Regions from separate parts of the Homo sapiens genome. Here region 2 is linked to region 1. The links come from fine-mapping of genetic effects on gene expression. A gene starts in region 1. The other region holds a variant in brackets. All regions are shown on one strand. Distances are from middle to middle. Region 1 holds the start of CD27-AS1 (CD27 antisense RNA 1). Region 2 has its middle 19 kb from the start of CD27.

Region 1 (8,000 bases):
TCACTTGAGTCCAGGAAGTGGAGGCTGCAGTGAGCCGTGACTGTACCACTGCACTCCAGCTTGGGAGACAGAGTGAGCAGAGTGAGACCCTGTTTCCAAAAAAAAAAAGAAAACAAAAGCTTTTCCATTGCAAATCAACCAAAAAGGAACGTCTTTAATACACAAGAAATATTCTTCAGTCTACTTAACTTAAAAATGTAACTGTAATAGATGCTTTTCTCTTGACAGCGGCCCCGGCAGGGTTGGAACTTTTCCTAGTCAAAACCCCCCTACTCACTCTGCAGACCCTTCCTGAAGGTCTTCGCCCCATACTGAGCCCATCTTCAGTCCCTTCACTTGTTCCAAACTAGCCCAATCCATGACCCTTCTCTGGGAGCTCAGCCAATAGATCCCAAAGTACCACAGCAGCACCTGGCTGCAGAAGGACCCCCGGGAAATGCAGTCAGGGGTGAGAAGATGGGTGGGCTGAATGAGCTCGGCCCTCTCTGGGCCTTAGTGCTGGCATCTATGAGATGAGGACATGCCTGAAGTCAGCCTGGAATTTTGAGCCCAGGTTATACCTGGTAAATAGAACTCCCAGGTCTCCGGATACTCACCACTAAAACAATAGCACCTCATTGTTTTTGTTTTGTTTTGTTTTGTTTTTTAATTATACTTTAAGTTCTAGGGTACATGTACACAATGTGCAGGTTTGTTACATAGGTATACATGTGCCATGTTGGTGTGCTGCACCCATTAACTCATCATTTACATTAGGTATATCTCCTAATGCTATCCCTCCTCCCTCCCCACACCCCACGACAGGCCCCAGTGTGTGATGTTCCCCTTCCTGTGTCCAAGTGTTCTCATTGTTCAATTCCCACCTACGAGTGAGAACACATTGTTTTTAACCCTCCCCAGCAGCTTCTTTAACCCCTCCATTTCCCTTTTGGCGGAGACCCTTGTCATCACTCCTCTCTACCACCAGTGCTCTCCCCTCCTGCACTGTCCCAGGCTTCCTCATTCTTCCCTTGCAGGTCCTTATCCAACATGGCTCACAATTCCTGGGAAGCCACAAGGAAACCAAATTCTAGTAGCAACTCAGAGTCAGCATTCATTAGCAGGTCACAGGGCCATAAGGATGCCAAGAAGGAATTTGTCCCTCTCCTTGTCCTGACAAAAGGCATAAGTAGAAGAAAATTGTTAGGTTTGGTTATGACCTTTGACATTCTCTCTTTGACATCCTCCCTTTCTGCACCCCTCTTCCACCTGTCAGGGCACCTAGGGCTCCCCGGGTCCCCACAAGTGTCTGCCCTAAGGCCCACCAGGCTTTCTTGCAGCCTGTCCCACATCTGGGTGTCACTGCCTTCCTCTGAATCACCCTCCTCTCAAACCAGCCGCCAGCGAGCCCAGCCCAGCCCAGCTAGTGCCCTACCACACCCGCCCCCAGGATAATTAACACCCAGCCACCCAGCATCGGACCTCTACACTTGAGCAAAATGTATATTTTAAAGGCAAATTCTCACGCCTGTAATCCCAGCACTTTGGGAGGCCAAGGCGGGCGGATCACGAGGTCAGGAGATTGAGACCATCCTGGCTAACACGGTGAAACCCCGTCTCTACTAAAAATACAAAAAATTAGCCAGGTGTGGTGGCACACACCTGTAATCCCAGCTACTAGGGAGGCTGAGGCAGGAGAATCACTTGAACTCAGGAGGCGGAGGTTGCACTGAGCCGAGATCGTGCCACTGCACTCCAACCTGGGCGACAAAGCAAGACTCTGTCAAAAAACAAACAAACAAAATAAAGGCTAAGTAACTGTAATCAAGTAACTATTTATTATTTATTTATTTTAGTGTATCCACAGGTTGTGCAGCCATCAACACTATCTAATTCTATAACATTTTCGTTACCCCAGAGAAACTTGTACCCCTTAGCAATGACTCCCCATTTCTTCCCCCCAACCAACCCCAGCCCCAGCCCCAGCCCCTGGGAATCCCTAATATACTTTGTTTTGTTTTTTGTTGGTGGTGTTTGAGACAGGATCTCACTCTGTCACCCAGGCTGGAGCGCAGTATCATGATCTCAGCTCACTGTAACCTCCACCTCCCGGGCTCAAGCGATCCTCCCACCTCAGCCTCCCCAGTAGCTTGGGCCTACAGGTGTGCACCACCACACCCAGCTAATTTTTGTATTTTTTGTAGAGACGGGGTTTCACCATGTTGGCCAGGCTGGTCTCAAACTCCTGAGCTCAAGCAATCCACCCACCTCAACCTCCCAAAGTGCTGGGATTACAGGCGTAAGCCACTGCACCTGGCTATTTTCTTTCTTTCTTTTCTTTTTTTTTTTTTTTTGAGACGGAGTTTCACTCTGTTGCCCAGGCTGGAGTGCAGTGGCGTGATCTCGGCTCACTGCAACTTCCACCTCCCGGGTTCAAGCAATTCCCTGCCTCACCCGGCTATTTTATATTTGTTGATCTGCTGCTGGTTATGCCTGTGAGCCAAATTTGTACAAATTCTTAAGCTTTACAATCATGCGTGCCTCTCTGTACGTATATTATACTTTAATTAAAAGTTATTAAAGTATTGGGGCCGAGCACAGTGGCTCACGCCTGTAATCCCAACACTTTGGGAGGCTGAGGCTGGTGCATCACCTGAGGTCAGGAGTTTAATACCAGCCTGGCCAATACAGTAAAACCCCGTCTCTACTAAAAATACAAAAAATTAGCCGGGTGTGGTGGCACACACCTGTAATCCCAGCTACTTGGGAGGCTGAGGCAGGAGAATTGCTTGAACCCGGGAGGCAGAGGTTGCAACGAGCCAAGGTCACGCCATTGCACTCCAGCCTCGGCAACAAGAGCGAGACTCCATCTCAAAAAAATAAATAAAAAATAAAAAATGTATCAGGGAGTACAAGAGAAAGTCATATAAGCTCTTTCTACTTTTCATGGTTTCTATGTCTGAACCCATGAATCTTCCTTCTGAAAGGTCCAACTTTCTTCTTTAATAACAATAATAATGGCAAAGGCATTGGGGGACCGTGAGCAAAGGGCAGGCCTTTGCAGGGGTGGGAATGGAAAGGGAAGCACGTCCCTAGAGGTGGGCCTGGGATGGGGGTTGGGGGATGAAGCAAGTGGACCTTGAAGGTCTCCACAGGTCTGAGTGTCCTATGCTCCCTGGGCCTCTCTTCCCCCAGGTCTTCTCGTTCGCAACTGCACCATCACTGCCAATGCTGAGTGTGCCTGTCGCAATGGCTGGCAGTGCAGGGACAAGGAGTGCACCGAGTGTGATCCTCTTCCAAACCCTTCGCTGACCGCTCGGTCGTCTCAGGCCCTGAGCCCACACCCTCAGCCCACCCACTTACCTTATGTCAGTGGTAAGTTCCAGGCAACTCTCTGTGCCATCACGTGGGGTAGCGGTGATACCCCAACCAGTACTCCCCACTCCTACCCCTAGATAAGGTCAGCCTGTTTCTGCCTTCCCATCCCATCCAGCACCTCTCAGGCCTTCAGATGTGCCCTATGGGGTCCCCTGCTGCTACTCATTCTGTCTCTGTTTTTCCAGAGATGCTGGAGGCCAGGACAGCTGGGCACATGCAGACTCTGGCTGACTTCAGGCAGCTGCCTGCCCGGACTCTCTCTACCCACTGGCCACGTGAGTTTTCTCCTTAATCCCCACCGCTAGAGAGAATGCATACACGAGGGGCCAGGAGGGAAGCCAGACAGAAAGCTCCTAGGATTAGGGATAAGAGGAGGGGAAAAAGCAGAGTCCACTGTTTAGGAGAGGAGTTGGCCAACGGTGGCGGGTGGGATAGAATAAGGTGGGGGAAAGGGGAGAGGCAAGGTGACAGGAGGGCTGGGCTGAGGGAGCCAAGGGCTAGACCCTCCCCTAACCCCTGTGTGTCCCCTCCTATTACAGCCCAAAGATCCCTGTGCAGCTCCGATTTTATTCGCATCCTTGTGATCTTCTCTGGAATGTTCCTTGTTTTCACCCTGGCCGGGGCCCTGTTCCTCCATCAACGAAGGAAATATAGATCAAGTAAGAGACAGAACACAGGCCTCCGGTCCTGCCCCTGCACCACACCCCACTGGCTCAACCCCACTGCCCACGCCTGGAATCTCACTGAAACCCACCAGCTCCACTTCACCAGCCTTGGTCCTACCCCTTCTCTCCCCTTAGCTGGCGTGCTCCTGACACCCCTCCCCCAAGCGCACCCGCCTCTACCCATCTCCTTCTCCCGTCTCCCCCTGCCCCCACTGCTGGCCAAGACTCATCGGATCTCCTTCTGCAGACAAAGGAGAAAGTCCTGTGGAGCCTGCAGAGCCTTGTCATTACAGCTGCCCCAGGGAGGAGGAGGGCAGCACCATCCCCATCCAGGAGGATTACCGAAAACCGGAGCCTGCCTGCTCCCCCTGAGCCAGCACCTGCGGGAGCTGCACTACAGCCCTGGCCTCCACCCCCACCCCGCCGACCATCCAAGGGAGAGTGAGACCTGGCAGCCACAACTGCAGTCCCATCCTCTTGTCAGGGCCCTTTCCTGTGTACACGTGACAGAGTGCCTTTTCGAGACTGGCAGGGACGAGGACAAATATGGATGAGGTGGAGAGTGGGAAGCAGGAGCCCAGCCAGCTGCGCCTGCGCTGCAGGAGGGCGGGGGCTCTGGTTGTAAAACACACTTCCTGCTGCGAAAGACCCACATGCTACAAGACGGGCAAAATAAAGTGACAGATGACCACCCTGCAGCTCTCCAGCTTCCTCTCTGAAATCCCAGTCCCAAAATCCAGTTTCCTGGCCGCCTCCTGGCTCAGGTCAGGATCTGGCAGAGGAGGTTTCTCAGCCGGTTATGTTGGGGCCTGCTTAAGGGCGGGGGTGAGAAAGGTCCCCAGGCTACTGTGGATCCTGTGTCTGACTTCAGATCCCCTTTTCCCACAGTTATAGCTCCACTTTTTTGGGACAGGTGGGGAGCAAAAGGGTGCAGAGGTCAGGTCTTGAAATCACCAGGGGATTTCCGGGTGAGGTGGGTGGTGAGAAAGGAAACAGCAAGCAGGGCTCTGGCAGCTGCTGCAGACGGCTTCACACAGGGACGCGGGCTGCCATCTTGCTCTAAGTGAAAGTGAAAGAAAAGTCGGCAGCAGAGGGAACAGGGAAGAAACCTAAAGGCTGCAGGCTGCCAGGTGTGCTTGGAGAGCCCCCTTCTTCCGCCGGGCCTCGCAAGCAGCGTAGGACTGTGGAGAAGGGCGGTGGGCAAGGAGGGAACTCGAGAGCAGCCTCCATGGGCACACAGGAGGGCTGGTGCCTGCTGCTCTGCCTGGCTCTATCTGGAGCAGCAGAAACCAGTGAGTCTGGGAGTCGGGGAGAGCTGGCTGGGAGAAGAGCTACTGAAGCCCCAGGGTGCCACCCTCCCCGAGATTCCAGAAGAGCAAAGGGGCCGGGGATGACCCCATCGCCTTCTAAGCCCAACAGGGGAAAGGCTCAGCGGCTGGCAAAGGAAGGAACCAATAGTGTGTGTGGAGGGAGGGTGGGGACTCCACAGGGAAAATGCTAAAGAGGGGCTGCCTCTGTGGCTGTGGTCAGGAGCCACTGTCCTACAGAGAGGGCACTGGCCTGGGAGCTGACACTTCAGAAGAGGAAAGGACTCCCCAGGTGAGGAAATCACTTGGAAGGTGACCTTGAAGGCGGGGGAGGGGAAGGCTACCCGAAATGGGAGAAAGCAGTGCAGGCTGTCAGTGCCCCAGCAACAGTAACTGTCCAGTCTCCTCTCTCTGCGGTGGCACTTGCTTGTTTTCTGAGAATTCCTTTGACTGAAAAGATAGTCTTTTATTCAACAGTTGGAAATGCAAGCATAAACTCCTCTGAGCAAGGCAAATCCAGGACTTTAACTCTCACCAAGAAGTATTTGCCTGGACTAGCAGGTGCTCTCCAGAAAGCTGGTTTGGGGATGACGGGAGAATAGAGGGACACAGAAACAGCTAGGATCTTGGATGGCAACTTTTACCCTTTGATGACTCCACAGCTTGAGGGCGGGGGCAGGAAGCAAGTGTGGAGTAGCTTTCTGGGGAAGGCGGTGCTCACCCCAGCCTTTGTCTGCAGAGCCCCACCCAGCAGAGGGGCAGTGGCGGGCAGTGGACGTGGTCCTAGACTGCTTCCTGGCGAAGGACGGTGCGCACCGTGGAGCTCTCGCCAGCAGTGAGGACAGGGCAAGGGCCTCCCTTGTGCTGAAGCAGGTGCCAGTGCTGGACGATGGCTCCCTGGAGGACTTCACCGATTTCCAAGGGGGCACACTGGCCCAAGATGACCCACCTATTATCTTTGAGGCCTCAGGTAAAAGCCTTCCACCTGTGTCCTTGGTCCTCCCGGGCTCCCTCCACCAGGACAGCCCAGGTCCCGATTACAGCCACACATACTGCCTCCCGTTGGCCCTGGTGTTCTCACGCTAATTTGCCCTCTGTGTGTGCCCTGCTTCTCCCCAGTGGACCTGGTCCAGATTCCCCAGGCCGAGGCCTTGCTCCATGCTGACTGCAGTGGGAAGGAGGTGACCTGTGAGATCTCCCGCTACTTTCTCCAGATGACAGAGACCACTGTTAAGACAGCAGCTTGGTTCATGGCCAACATGCAGGTCTCTGGAGGGGGACCTAGCATCTCCTTGGTGATGAAGACTCCCAGGGTCACCAAGAATGAGGCGCTCTGGCACCCGACGCTGAACTTGCCACTGAGCCCCCAGGGGACTGTGCGAACTGCAGGTAAGAAAATGAAAAGCAAGGCCAGGTGTGGTGGCTCACGCCTGTAATTCCAGAATTTTGGGATACCGAGGTCGGTGGATCACCTGAGGTCAGGAGTTTGAGATCAGCCTGGTCAACACGGTGAAACCCCGTCTCTACTAATACCAAAATTAGCCGGGCATGGTGGCGGGTGCCTGTAATCCCAGCTACGAGGGAGGCTGAGGCAGGAGAATCGCTTGAACCCGGAAGGCAGAGGTTGCGGTGAGCCGAGATCACACCATGGCACTTCAGCCTGGGCAACAAGAGCGAAACTCCATCTCAAAAAAAAAAAAGAAAAGAAAAGAAAAGCAAGTCACAGAAAGTTTTGCTTTTCTAAAGTGGTAAGATATGGGGCACAGAAGAAGAAAGGGAACAAATCCACCTCCATCCACACTGGTCACCTCAGGGCACCCCTAGGCCTTGGTCCTTTCTTCCTAAAAACCCCTGAGTCAGGCCAGGTGCGAAGGCCCATGCCTGTAATCCCAGCACTTTGGGAGGCCAAGGCAGGTGGATCACCTGAGGTCAGGAGTTCAAGACCAGCCTGGCCAACATGGTGAAACCCCCTCTCTACTAAAATACAGAAATTAGCCGGGCATGATGGCAGGTGCCTGTAATCCCAGCTACTCAGGAGACTGAGACGGGAGAATCACTTGAACCTGAGAGACGGTGGTTGCAGTGAGCCGAGATTGCGCCACTGCACTCCAGCCTGGGCAGCTGAGTGAGACACCGTCTCAAAAACAACAACAACAACAAAAACCCTGAGTCCACAAGAGAATGCTTCGCAGCCCCTACCTGAACGTCCCCAGGCACACAGACAACCTGTGTTATTTCCAAAATGGAGATCGTTCTCATCTCACTGGGCTGCCATGAGGAAATAAGACACATGATGCTATTCTGTACATGGGTGCTGTCCACTGTAGTCTTATCGAGCCAAAACCCGGTTTTCTCCCAGTGAAATGCTAGGCTGCTCTGGTGCTTCAGGGGTAAAGCTCAGGGATGCATCATTTGTTCATGATCTTATTAGTAAACCCAGTACTTGCCCTCTCCAGCTCAGCACATCCTCGAGGGCACAAGAAATTGAGAACATGATGACAGGGTTCCCCAGAGCCCATTAATCCAATACTCTGTGCCCTGCTTCTTTGAGTCTCCAAGAAGAAACAGCCAAGTCCAGAGAAAATTAGGGGCAACCGTCCTATCCTTGGAAAACCCCAGAACACTCTAACCTCTCTGTGGTCCAACCTAAATCTATCCTGACCCATTAGAA
Region 2 (12,524 bases), 25 kb before region 1:
TGTATTTTCATCTTTTATTTCTTTTCCTTTTTTTTTTTTTTTTTTTTGAGACAGTCTCACTCTGTTGCCCAGGCTGGAGTGCAGTGGCGCAATCTCGGCTCACTGCAACCTCCGTCTCCCGGGTTCAAGGGATTCTCCTGCCTCAGTCTCCTGAGTAGCTGGGATTACAGGCATGCACCACCACGCCCGGCTAATGTTTGTATTTTTAGTAGAGACGGGGTTTCACCGTGTTGGTCAGGCTGGTCTCCAACTCCTGACCTTGTGATCCGCCTGCCTCGGCCTCCCAAAGTGCTGGGATTACAGGCGTGGGCCACTGCGCCCGGCCCTCTTTTATTTCTTATACAAAGCCCAGTTCCTAACACATAGGAAGTGATTGATAAACTTGTTGAAAGAATGAGGGACAGTTTTCCTCTCTAGCTTTCATGTTGCTTGTCTGAGAATAAAGGAATCAGAACAAGATGCCTGAAGTTCCTGCCAACTCTAAAATACTCTTTTCCAGTATGCATTAAGTAAATATTAGTTAAGTAAATAAGCAATACCCACCAAAAGAAAATCCCTTTAAAGGTGTGTCTTGAAAGAACATGAATCAATTTGTTTGAGTTTTCTTCTAGAAGCAGTTTGGTATGAGTTTTTGGAAGCTCTTAAATGTTTTGCCTTGCCTCTGGAAACTTTCAGAGACCATCTGAGATCAGCCAAAAATAGAGTTTAAGAAGAATTGCTTTAGGAAATCCTTCCAAAGAGTGTCTTGTCTTTCATCTCATTCAGATTCCTCAAATTAGGCAATTTGGAGACAATCTCTGTCTTGAAATTATGTAAATTACCCATCTCTGTTATTTGTCTTTCTCGGATATTTTCAAAAAAGAAACGTCTGTTTCTTGACACAAGGCAACTCTTTACGCATCTTTGAGGCTAACGCTAACGTTACTTCTCTGATGAGAAGAAATTTTACCCTGTGTCCTTTCTTCCTCTCCAGAGAGGCTGTCCTTAAGTGGACATTGTCAACCTCCTCAGAGAGTAGCAATTCTGTTTGAGGGCTTCAAGCCCCTGAGAAACTAATAGGACCAGAGATCTAGAAGTGGAACTTTTACAAACCATATGGGCTCATGCATCCCCAAAGTTCACAAACTCCTTAAAATTCTATTCACAATATCGTATGCATGCGTGCACTATTTTTTTTGTTGTTGTTGTTTGTTTGTTTGTTTGTTTGAGATGGAGTCTTGCTCTGTCGCCCAGGCTGGAGTGCAGTGGTGTGATCTCTGCTCACCGCAACCTCTGCCTCCTGGGTTCAAGCGATTCTCCTGCCTCAGCCTCCCCAGTATCTGGGATTACAGGTGCTTGCCACCATGCCCGGCTTATTTTTGTACTTTTAGTAGAGATGGGTTTTTGCCATGTTGGCCAGGCTGGTCTCGAACTCATGGCCTCAAGTGATCCGCCTGCCTCAGCCTCCCAAAGTGCTGGGATTACAGGTGTGAGCCACCACACCCAGCCTGCATGTGCATTTTCCTTCCCTCCTTCCTTCCTTCCTTCCTTCTTTCTTTCTTTCTTTCTTTCTTTTTTTTGAGATGGAGTCTTACTCTGTCACCCAGGCTGGAGTGCGGTGGCGCGATCTTGACTCACTGCAACCTCTGCCTCCCAGGTTCAAGCGATTCTCCTGTCTCAGCCTCCCGAGTAGCTGGAATCACAGGCGCCTGCCACTACACCTGGCTAATTTTTTTTTTTTTTTTTTTTTTTTTTTTTTTTTTTGAGACGGAGTCTCGCTCTGTCGCTCAGGCTGGAGTGCAGTGGCGTGATCTTGGCTCACTGCAAACTCCGCCTCCCGGGTTCACACCATTCTCCTGCCTCAGCCTCCCGAGTAGCTGGGACTATAGGCGCCCGCCACCACGCCCAGCTAATTTTTAATAGAGACAAGATTTCACCATGTTGGCCAGACTGGTCTTGAACTCCTGACCTCAGGTAATCCACTCACCTTGGCCTCCCAAAGTGCTGGGAATACAGGCGTGAGCCACCGCACCCAGCCACAGGAGCTTTTATGTTCAGATCATAACCAGGCGTGGTGGCTCACTCATGTAACCCTAGAACTTTGGGAGGCTGAAGTGGGAAGATTGCTTGAGGCCAGGGGAGTTGGAACCAGCATGGGCAACATAGCAAGACTCTGTCCCTATTTTAATTTTTTAATTTTATTTATTTATTTATTTATTTATTTTGAGACAGATTCTTGCTCTGTTGCCCATGCTGGAGTGCAATGCCATGATCTCAGCTCACTGCAACCTCTGCCTCCCGGGTTTAAGCGATTCTCCTGCCTCAGCCTGCCAAGTAGCTGGGATTACAGGCACGTGCCAACGCATCCAGCTAATTTTTGTATTTTTAGTAGAGACAGGTTTCACCATGTTGACCAGGATGGTCTCGATCTCCTGACCTCGTGATCCGCATGCCTCGGCCTCCCAAAGTGCTGGGATTACAGGTGTGAGCCACCGCACCCGGCCCCTATTTTAATTTTAAAAAGAAAACAAGATCAGGTCATACTTTGGTGCATTCTTTTTTTCTTTCTTTCTTTTTTTTTTTATTTGAGATGGAGTCTCGCTCTATCACCCAAGCTGGAGTGCAGTGCTGCAATCTCGGCTCACTGCAACCTCTGCCTTCCGGGTTCAAGCGATTCTCCTGCCTCAGCCTCCCGAGTAGCTGGGACTATAGGCACTTGCCACCATGCCCAGCTAATTTTTGTATTTTTAGTAAAGATGGGGTTTCACCATGTTGGCTAGGATGGTCTCAATCTCTTGACCTCGTGATCCGCCAGCCTCAGCCTCCCAAAGTATTGGGATTACAGGCGTGAGCCACCACGCCCAGCCTTTGGTATATTCTTTTAGGTTATGTTAAAGATAGATTCTTCAAGTCACAGATAGGAGTACTTGGGATCACCCCTCTGCCCCCACCAGTGGCCCTCCCTTAGGGGGTTCCTCAAATTCTTTGAACTTGCTGAAACCCAGCCTGCTGTGCTGACACAAGAGAAGCCCTGGGAGGATACCCGACGCCTGGCACCTCTGCCCTTATGTCCCTTTTTTTTCTGTTAGAATCCCATTTTGTTTTCTTTTTATAGATGTAGGGAGTACAGTGCAGTTTTGTTACATGGATATATTGAGTAGTGGTGGAGTCTGGGCTTTTAGTATAACCACGATCCGAATAGTGTACATTGTACCCATTGGGAAATTTCTCATCCCTCACCCACCTCCCACCCTCCCACCTTTCCAAATCTCCAATGTCTACTATTGCACTCTCTGTGTCCATGTGCACACATTATTTAGCTCCCACTTATAAATGAGAACATGCAGTATTTGACTCTGTCTCTGAATTATTTCACTTAAGGTAATGGCCTCTAAGGGTTCCATCCACATTGCTGCAAAAGATGTAATTTCATTCTTTTTAATGGCTGAGTAGTATTCCATGGTATAAATATGCCACATTTTCTTTATACAATCATCCATTGGTGGGCCCCTAGGTTGATTCCATATCCCTGCTCTTGTAAACAGTGCTGCGATAAACGTATCTTCAAAATAACAGCCTTGAAGCCCTAATTGGGCTCCTGAGAGGGCCACGTGAGACAGTGTGAAGAGCGAAATCACTATTCTGCCACAAGAGGGCACCCAAAGCCCAGACAGATGGGACGACGCGCTTCCTGCCTCCATTGGAATCAAGCGCATGACTGGATAGCAGAGGCTCCTTGGGCAGGGAGCCACAGCTTGAAGGTCCCAGTTATGCAACTGGCCCCAAGGCCCTTCTACCCCTTCCCCAGGGGACTTCACCAGCTCCTTTTAGGACAGAGTTTGTGTATGGTTCTTGCTGGCTTCAGTCCCTCCCGTAGAGGTGACCCTGAGTAGCTGGGATTACAGGTGCCAGCATATGCACCTGTAATCCCTCCTCCCTGGGGAAAATCTCTGCCCTGGATGGGTAAGATCCTGACCCTGCGTGAACGTGGCATGCGCTTCTGTTCTCCACTCCCTGGAGTTCCTCCTGAGGCCGTGCAGGATCCTGTCCAGTGCTCACAGGCATGAGCATGACTTCAGGGTTGTGAGCAGAGCCCTGCAGAGGTATGCATATGGCTATGGAGTGGTGACCTACTCGGACAGAAAGAATAAGGAAAGGATCCAGTAGCCAGGCCAAAAGGAAGAGGCACCAAGAAGGGCTGCAGCTTGAGGGTGGAGATTCCAGACTTCCAGATACTCTAGTGGGGGTACGATTTGGACCCAGGAGGCAGGTTGCAAATCTAAACCCATCAGAAGCATATGGACTCTTCTTTTGATTAGTTGTCAATGCGAAAAAATTTTTTTAATTTTTAAAAAGGGTATAGACTTAGACAAACTCAGAACTATTAAATTTATAATGTAGTTTGAAACATTTAAGGGAACATTGTACTAAACTGAGAACTATATAGATGTACGCAGGCCCAAGTCTGGCTTCCTAGCCTCAAATCTGGCAAATAAATAAGGTTAGCCTTCCTGAGACGGTAATCACAGATCACGGTCATACACTGCCCACTTGAGTAAAACCGTTCCCCTTGGGGACGAGTGTTCTTTTAACCCCAAGAAGGTTTGGAATCAATCTTTATGATGGCTTTTACCCTCTCAACTTAGCTAAGACGAAACCATATTTCTTGGAAATTAATCCCTGTATGGTTCTGGGTGAGGGTTGGCCACAAGAGAAATGTAAGATTTGAGAGGTAGGAAAACAGAATAGGAGCGGCCGTCGTGCTCTGAGGCCAGCATGGGGTGACAGTCATCTGCTGGCTCACCTTGTCTGCACGGATGGCAGCCAGACTGGCAGCTCTTCCAGCTCCCGTCAGATCGCCTCCTTCAGCTTCTCTAATTCTTGGCCACACAAGTGCAACTCCGTGGCAAGGAGTGCTAGGTCCTTCTGCAGACACCCATACCATCGGGGTGGGTGGTGGTGAGGCACAGACGCAGGCTCCGGATGGCCTTTGCCCTGCCCCCACTTCACATCCAGTGCTTCTCCCAACTGACCCATAGTGACCTCAGGTCCACCACAGATACGGAGGCCTCCAAAGACTCCTTCCCCAGCTGCCATGATTGATTAAGGTCTAATCTCTAAAATAAGTTCCTTATTCCATAACACTCATAGTGGTTTTGACTCTCTGGTCAAACCTTAACTGATAAAAATCAAAAGTGATGAAGCAAATCAAACTCATGCTAAGTTTCAAACAGGTTTTAACCACTGCATGCATTTGGTACTTAAAGTTTTTGTAATGCTTAAAAGAATCTGACATATATTAATACTTAAATAGGAAATGCATGAAACTACAGAAAAAAAAATTAAAAAAATTTTAAACAATTTGACATAGAAGTATTATAGATTAGCCTCATTATTATATTAATATTTAAAATGTATAATTGCCGGGCATGGTGGCTCATGCCTGTAATCCTAGCACTTTGGAAGACTGAGGCGGGCAGATCGCTTTGAGCCCAGGAGTTCAAGACCAGCCTGGACAACCTGGTGAAACCCTGTCCCTAGTAAAAATGCAAAAACTAGCTGGGCTTCATGGCGTGCGCCTGTAGTTCCAGCTACTCGGGAGGCTGAGGTGGGAGGACTGCTTGAGGCGAGGAGTTCGAGGCTACAGTGAGCCGTGATCACACCACTACACTCTAGCCTGGGCAACAGAGCCAGACCCTGTCTCACAAAACAAAA[G/C]AAACAAACAAACCACACAAACTTGCAACATCCTGCTTCTTGCAGCTCTCCCCATCCGGCCCACCCCATTCCTTTGGCGTGAAAATATGATGGGGTCTCCTCAGCCCTAGAAGCACCCACACCGTTCAACCTAAAGCTCCCACTGACTAGCTGAGCTCTCATAAAGGTGAGATTTGTCGCATACGCCTCCCATACACCTCTTCCTAGTAGATTTCTTCACTCTTTCCCTTCCATTCTGAGCACGGCCCCACTTAAGGAACTCTCAGCTCTCATGTTGCCCTATCCCAGTCAAGAAGGAAGTTGCTGGTGATCAAGTCATACTCCAGTGAACACTGACTGGCACCTCTTCTGCATCAAGTCCTAGCAGGGCATTCACCCGAGTTACCAAACATGGCTGCTCACACCCGCCCTCCGAGGCCAGCATCTGCATCCCCATGTGACAGTGGAAACAAACCCACGGAGCCTGAGCAACTGGGCAGCCAGCAAGTGACTGAGCAGAGAGACGGCCTTGGACGCAGGCCAAGCAGCACAGATTTACTCGAATCATCCTCCGCTCCTTCAGATTTTCACCAGCTGATTGATCCTTGGACTTCCCCCCCAGGCTTCTCTGACATCACCAGCCACCAGGACCCTGCCTATGCCTGTGGCCTGCAACATTCCTCTATGCACATCAAAGTAGGGAGCATCAGGCCGGGTGCGGTGGCTCACACCTGTAATCCTAGCACAATGAAAGACCGAGGTGGGCAGATAACTTGAGACCAGGAGTTCAAGACCAGCCTGGCCAACACGGCGAAACCCCATCTCTACTAAAAATACAAAACAATTAAGCAGGGATGATGGTGTGTGCCTGGGGTCCCAGCTACTTGGGAGGCTGAGGCATGAGAATTGTTTGAACCCGAACCCAAGGCTGAGGCAGAAGTTGCAGTGAGCCAAGATCGCGCCACTGCACTCCAGCCTGGGTGAGAGAACTCCAGCCTGGGTGACAGAGGGAGGCTCCATCTCCCAAAAAACAAAACAAAACAAACAAACAAAAAAAACAAGTAGACAGCATCAATTCTGGCCAACTTATGGGTAAAAGAGAAGGCTGCCACAGCCCTTGCCCTTTGGGAGTGCCTGTCCCTTCAGTAGCTGCCCCAAAAATCCTGCAGAAGAGAAGGGTCAGAGGAAGCACCTGTAATAAAGGGTGAGGCCCCACCAACCCACTCTCTTCCTCTCCTCTCCTAGCCGAGGGAGCCATCAGAGGCAAAGGGAGTGTGGGAAAGATTAGTCAGACATGTTTCCCTTTGTGTCACAGAGTCAAACTCTCCATCCGTGACTTCAGAAAAGTCACAAGAGAGCCCCAGCAACGGCCCACAGGGTGTCATAGCAACACGCCTACACCTCAAGGTGCCACCTTCCAACTCTGGAGAAAACAACTGCCTTCTTCAAATGTCAACTGCTACATGGGCAAAGAGCAACTTGAAAATGAAATTCGGGGCTGGGCGCAGTGGCTCACACCTGTAATCATTTTGAGAGTCCAAGGCGGGTGGATCACTTGAGCCCAGGAGTTCCAGACCAGCCTGGGCAACATGGCAAAACCACATGTCTTCAAAAAAATACAAAAAGTAGACAGGCATGATGGCATGCACCTGTAGTCCCAGCTACTCGGGAGGCTGAAGTGGGAGGATCACTTGAACCCGGGAAGTGCAGGCTGCAGTGAGCCGAGGTTGCACCACTGCACTCCCCACTCAGTCTGGGTGACAGAGCGAGACACTGTCTAAAAAAAAAAAAAGAAGAAGAAAAAAAGAAAGAAAGAAAATGAAATTGAAATTAGGGGCCGGGCACAGTGGCTCATGCTTGTAATCCTAGCACTTTGGGAGGCCGAGGCAGGCGGGATCACCTGAGGTCAGGAGTTTGAGACCAGCCTAACCATGATGGTAAAACCCAGTCTCTACTAAAAACACAAAATTAGCTGGGCATGTGTGGCGCATGCCTGTAATCCCAGCTATTCAGGAGGCTGAGGCAGGAGAATCACTTGAACCCAGGAGGTGGAGATTGCAATGAGCCGAGACTGCGCCATTGCACTCCAGCCTGGGCAACAAGAGCGAAACTCCATCTCAAAAAAAAAAAAAAATGAAATTAGGAAAAACAACTCAATTTACAATAGCATCAAAAAGAATAAATACTTAGGCATACATTGGCCAGGTGCGGTGGCTCACATCTGTAATTCCCACATTTTGGGAGGCCAAGGCAGGCGGATCACCTGAGGTCAAGAGTTCGAGACCAGACTGGCCGACATGATAAAACCCTGTCTCTACTAAAAATACAAAAAATTAGCCAGGCGTGGTGGCAGGCACCTATAATCCCAGCTACTCGGGAGGCTGAGGCTGCAGAATCGCTTGAACCTGGGAAGCAGAGGCTGCAGTGAGCTGAGATTGGGCCGCTGCACTCCAGCCTGGACAACAGAGTGAGACTCTGTCTCGAGAAAAAAAAAAAAAAACTTGGTATACATTTAACAAAGAAAGTGCAAGACTCATACACTGAAAACTAGAAAACATTGTTGAAAGACATTAAAGAAATCCTAAATAAATGGAAAGACATCTGTGTTCATGGACTGAAGGTAACAATATTTCCCAATTTCATCTACAGACTCTATGCAATCCCCATCGAAATTCTAACTGCCTTCTTTTTTGCATAAATGGACAAGCTGATCTTAAAATTCACATGCAAATGCAAGGGACACAGAGTAGCCAAAATAATTTTGAAAAAGAAGAACGAAGTTGAAGTCCCAATTTCGAAACTTACTATAAAGCTACAGTAATCAAAACCATGGTATTGACCTAAAGACAGACATACAGATCAATGGAATACAATTTAGAGTCCAGAAATCAACCCATACATCTATTGTCAATTAATTTCAGCAAGGGTGCCAAGACCATTCTGTGTGAAAAGAATAGTCTTTTCAAGAAGCAGTGCTAGGACAACTGCATATCCACAAGTAAAAGAATGAAGTTGGACCCCTACCTAAAACCAGATAAAAAATTTAACTCAAAATAAATCAAAGAACTAAATTTAAGAGTTAAAACTATAAAACTCTTAGAGGGAAATATAAGTGAAAATCTGTATGAGTTTGGATTCGGCAACAGTTTCTCAAATATGATGCCAAAAGCACAGGCAACAAAAGAAACAGTAGATAAACTGGACTTCATCAAAATGTGAAACTTTTTTTTTTTTTTTTGAGACGGAGTCTCGCTCTGTCTCCCAGGCTGGAGTGCAGTGGCGTGATCTCTGCTCACTGCAAGCTCCGCCTCCTGGGTTCACGCCATTCTCCTGCCTCAGCCTCCCGAGTAGCTGGGACTACAGGCGCCCGCCACCACGCCCGGCTAATTTTTTGTATTTTTAAGAGACGGGGTTTCAGCATATTGGCCAGGCTGGTCTCCATCTCCTGACTTCGTGATCCGCCCGCCTTGGCCTCCCAAAGTGCTGGGATTACAGGCATGAGCCACCATGCCCGGCCCAAAATGTGAAATTTTTATGCATCAAAGGGCACTATTAAGAAGGTAAAAAGACAACCCACAGTATGGGATAAATTTTTTTTTTTTTTTTTCTGAGACGGAGTCTCGCTCTATCGCCCAGGCTGGAGTTCAGTTGTGCGATCTCGGCTCACTGCAAACTCTGCCTCCCGGGTTCCACACCATGCTCCTGCCTCAGCCTCCCGAGTAGCTGGGACTACAGGCGCCCGCCACAACGCCTGGCTAAATTTTTTTTTTTTTTTTTTTTAATTTTTAGTAGAGACGGGGTTTCACTGTGTTAGCCAGGATGGTCTCGATCTCCTGACCTCGTGATCTGCCCGCCTCGGCCTCCCAAAGTGCTGGAATTACAGGTGTGAGCCCCCGCCCCGGGCCAGAGAAAATATTTTCAAATCACTTATCTAGTAAGGTCTAGAATTCATAATATCAAAAAGAAAAAAAAAAAAACTCTTGCAACTCAGCAACAAAAGACACAAATAATTTAATTTAAACACGGGCAAAGGACTTGAACAGACATTTCTCCAAAGAAAATATACAAATGGCGATGAGCACATAAGAAGATTCTCAACATCATTAGTCTTAGTGAAATACAAATCAAAACCACAATAAGATACCACTTCACACCAACTAGGGTAGTTATAACTTTTTCAAAAATAGAAATGTATCTGTGATATTTGCACATCTTTGTGAATATAGTAAAAGCACTGAATTGCACATTTTTAAATGATGAAAATGATTCATTTTATCTCAGTAAAAGTCTAGCCACTGAATTGTACATTTTTAAATTATTAAAATGATTCATTTCATCTCAGTAAAAGTCAACAGGCACCAGGGATCCCTTCAGTTTGGGCTGGAGGTCAGTGCAGTTTGGGGGGTCATCAAATGCTGAAGCAGAAGGAGTTTAGGGGTCACGCAAGTCCCAGCTGCCGTGTGACAAGTGAGGTAAAGGACACACCCTCTGTGGAGGTCTGAAGTCCCCTGACATTAGTAAGGGAGGGACAGCAGAGATCTCCCCTGTCACCACGAGGCTTTTTTCAGCCCCCAGGGCAGATGGCAAGTGTATACCATGTTTGGCACCCCTGTGATTGGCAGAGGCAATGCAGGTTGGGTCTGGAGGACAAGATTGCTGTGGGGGAGAGCCAAGGGTGGACTTCAGAACACTGGTGGTGACATAAGGGTAAAAAGGCCTTGGTCACAAAAGAGGAAACACAAACAGCGCGATCATGGAAAGACGCTCAGCCTCCCCGGGAATGGGAAGAGTGCACACTGAAACAATGAGACAGCACTTTCCTCCAATGAGATGCTCAAAAACAGTTTGCTAATACGAAAGCCTGGCAGGACGTGAGGAAATATGTGCTATCATTCCACTGCTGGTGGGAGTGTGAATTGGTAGGGCCACTCTGGAGGGCAACTCGCCAGCATCTGTTAAAGTGAAAAATGTGCACACCCTGTGACTCAGCGATTCCGATGCCCCGCACTTATTCTAGAGAGACACTCCCACATGCACAGCGAAGTATGAGATGTTTATGCAACACCACTTACGATAGTGCATTGTTGGGAACAACCTAAGTATTCGGGAACCAGGAGAATGGCTAAAAAGCCTCTGCACATCCATTCTCTATTTAACGAAACGAGTAGTTCTAGAAGTATAAAATGAAATGATCTCCAAGACATATAACTGGATTAAAAGCACGAAAAGCAAATCGTAGGATACATACTGTATATCATTTATGGAAAGAACAAAACAAACACAAAAATACAACTGTGCTGGGGCCGATGGACAATTGTGCCTGGCAGGCTGAGTCATGAGGCCAGTTAACAAGCCTTTCTCTATCTGCAAAAAGAAGTACTTTAGAAAAGCAATATAAGAAGAACATGGACCAGGGGCAGTGGTTCATGCCTGTAATCTCAGCACTTTGAGAGGCTGGGGTGGAAGGATTTCTTGAGGCCAGGAATTTGAGACCAGCCTGAGAAACATAAAGAGACCCAGTCTCTACATAAAATTAAAAATCAGTCAGGCGTGGTAGTGTGCACCTCTGGTCCTAGATACTCTGGAGGCTGAGGTAGAAAGATCTCTTGAGCCCAGGAATTCGAGGCTACAGTGAGCCATGATTGTGCCACTGCACTCCAGCCTGGGTGAGTAAGCAAGGCTGTCTCTAAAACACAAAAAGAAGAAGAACATGGAACTGCCAGACTTGGGCTATTTCATTTCCCAGAGATAATTTTTTACCGAGTGGAGAGAAAATGGGTGGTTTGTTCCTTAGGCTCTATTTCTTGCTCTGTGCTAGAATTATCGCAGCTTTGTGTAAGATTTCCTTCAGCAAATATAGGTAGCCTGCGATGCCCCAAATAAGAAAGGAAAAGACAAAGTCAGATGTTACTGCTGTCGGTCATCTCAGGTATGAAAAAGAGAGGCAGGCCCCTTGCCAGGGAGAAGGAACAACCAGATGCTGTCCATGAGGCACTCTCCTACCTCTCCTAAGACAGGGGTCGCCCTTGCTCTGAAAAATTCAAGCAGAGAATCCTCAGGAGGAGTGGGGCCAAGAAATCAGAGTAAGAAATATTTGATTATTGCTTAATAACATTTTAAGTAGAAAATAAAATAATTTTTTAAAACAGGCTGGCCGGGCGTGGTGGCTCACGCCTGTAATCCCAGCACTTTGGGAGGCTGAGGCAGGTGGATCACGAGGTCAGGAGATCGAGACCATCCTGGCCAACATAGCAAAACCCCATCTCTACTAAAAATACAAAAATTAGCTGGGCATGGTGGCATGCACCTGTAATTCCAGCTACTCGGGAGGTTGATGCAGGAGAATCGCTTGAACCTGGGAGGCGGAGGTTGCGGTGAGGCAAGATCATGCTATTGCACTCCAACCTGGTGACAGAGCGAGACTCTGTCTCAAAACAAAAACAAAAACAAACAAACAAACAAACAGGCCGGGCATAGTGGCTTACGCCTATAATCCCAGCACTTCAGGAGGCCGAGATGGGCGGATCACCTGAGGTCAGGAGTTCAAGACCAGCCTGACCAACATGGTGAAACCCTATGTCTACTAAAATATAAAAATTAGCCAGATGTGGTGGGGGGCGCCTATAATCTCAGCTACTCGGGAGGCTGAGATGGGAGAATTGCTTGAACCCAGGAGGTGAAGGTTGCAGTGAGCCGAGATCATGCCATTGCACTCCAGCCTGGACAACAAGAGCGAGACTCCACCTCAAAAAATAAGAAGGAAAGAAAATAATTTTTAAAAACATAAACATATGCCTACCACAGTGGCTCATGCCTGTAATCTCAGCACTGTGGGAGGCTGAGACAGCTGG

Evidence for each region.
Region 2: its variant is fine-mapped to the expression of CD27-AS1 in whole blood (TOPMed, PIP above 0.99).

The regions. Positions count from the first base shown.
Region 1 is chr12:6,446,999-6,454,998 of GRCh38, forward strand. It overlaps CD27-AS1 (CD27 antisense RNA 1), which reads right to left and starts at 4,519. Exons shown (of 6, transcript NR_015382.2): 1 at 3,343-4,519; 2 at 1,642-1,739; 3 at 1,039-1,152; 4 at 1-89. It overlaps CD27 (CD27 molecule), which reads left to right. Exons shown (of 6, transcript NM_001242.5): 3 at 3,175-3,354; 4 at 3,543-3,632; 5 at 3,897-4,016; 6 at 4,270-4,715. The coding sequence ends at 4,394. TAPBPL (TAP binding protein like) reads left to right here and starts at 5,044. Exons shown (of 7, transcript NM_018009.5): 1 at 5,044-5,314; 2 at 6,069-6,299; 3 at 6,449-6,718. The coding sequence starts at 5,251. RefSeq lists enhancers at 3,854-4,063, 4,154-4,313, 4,744-5,343.
Region 2 is chr12:6,420,089-6,432,612 of GRCh38, forward strand. No RefSeq gene overlaps it. Among named protein-coding and RNA genes, the nearest start is that of CD27, 19 kb to the right of the region's middle. RefSeq lists enhancers at 3,379-3,428, 6,740-6,849, 6,890-7,129. The variant G/C (reference allele first, on the strand shown) is at 5,695.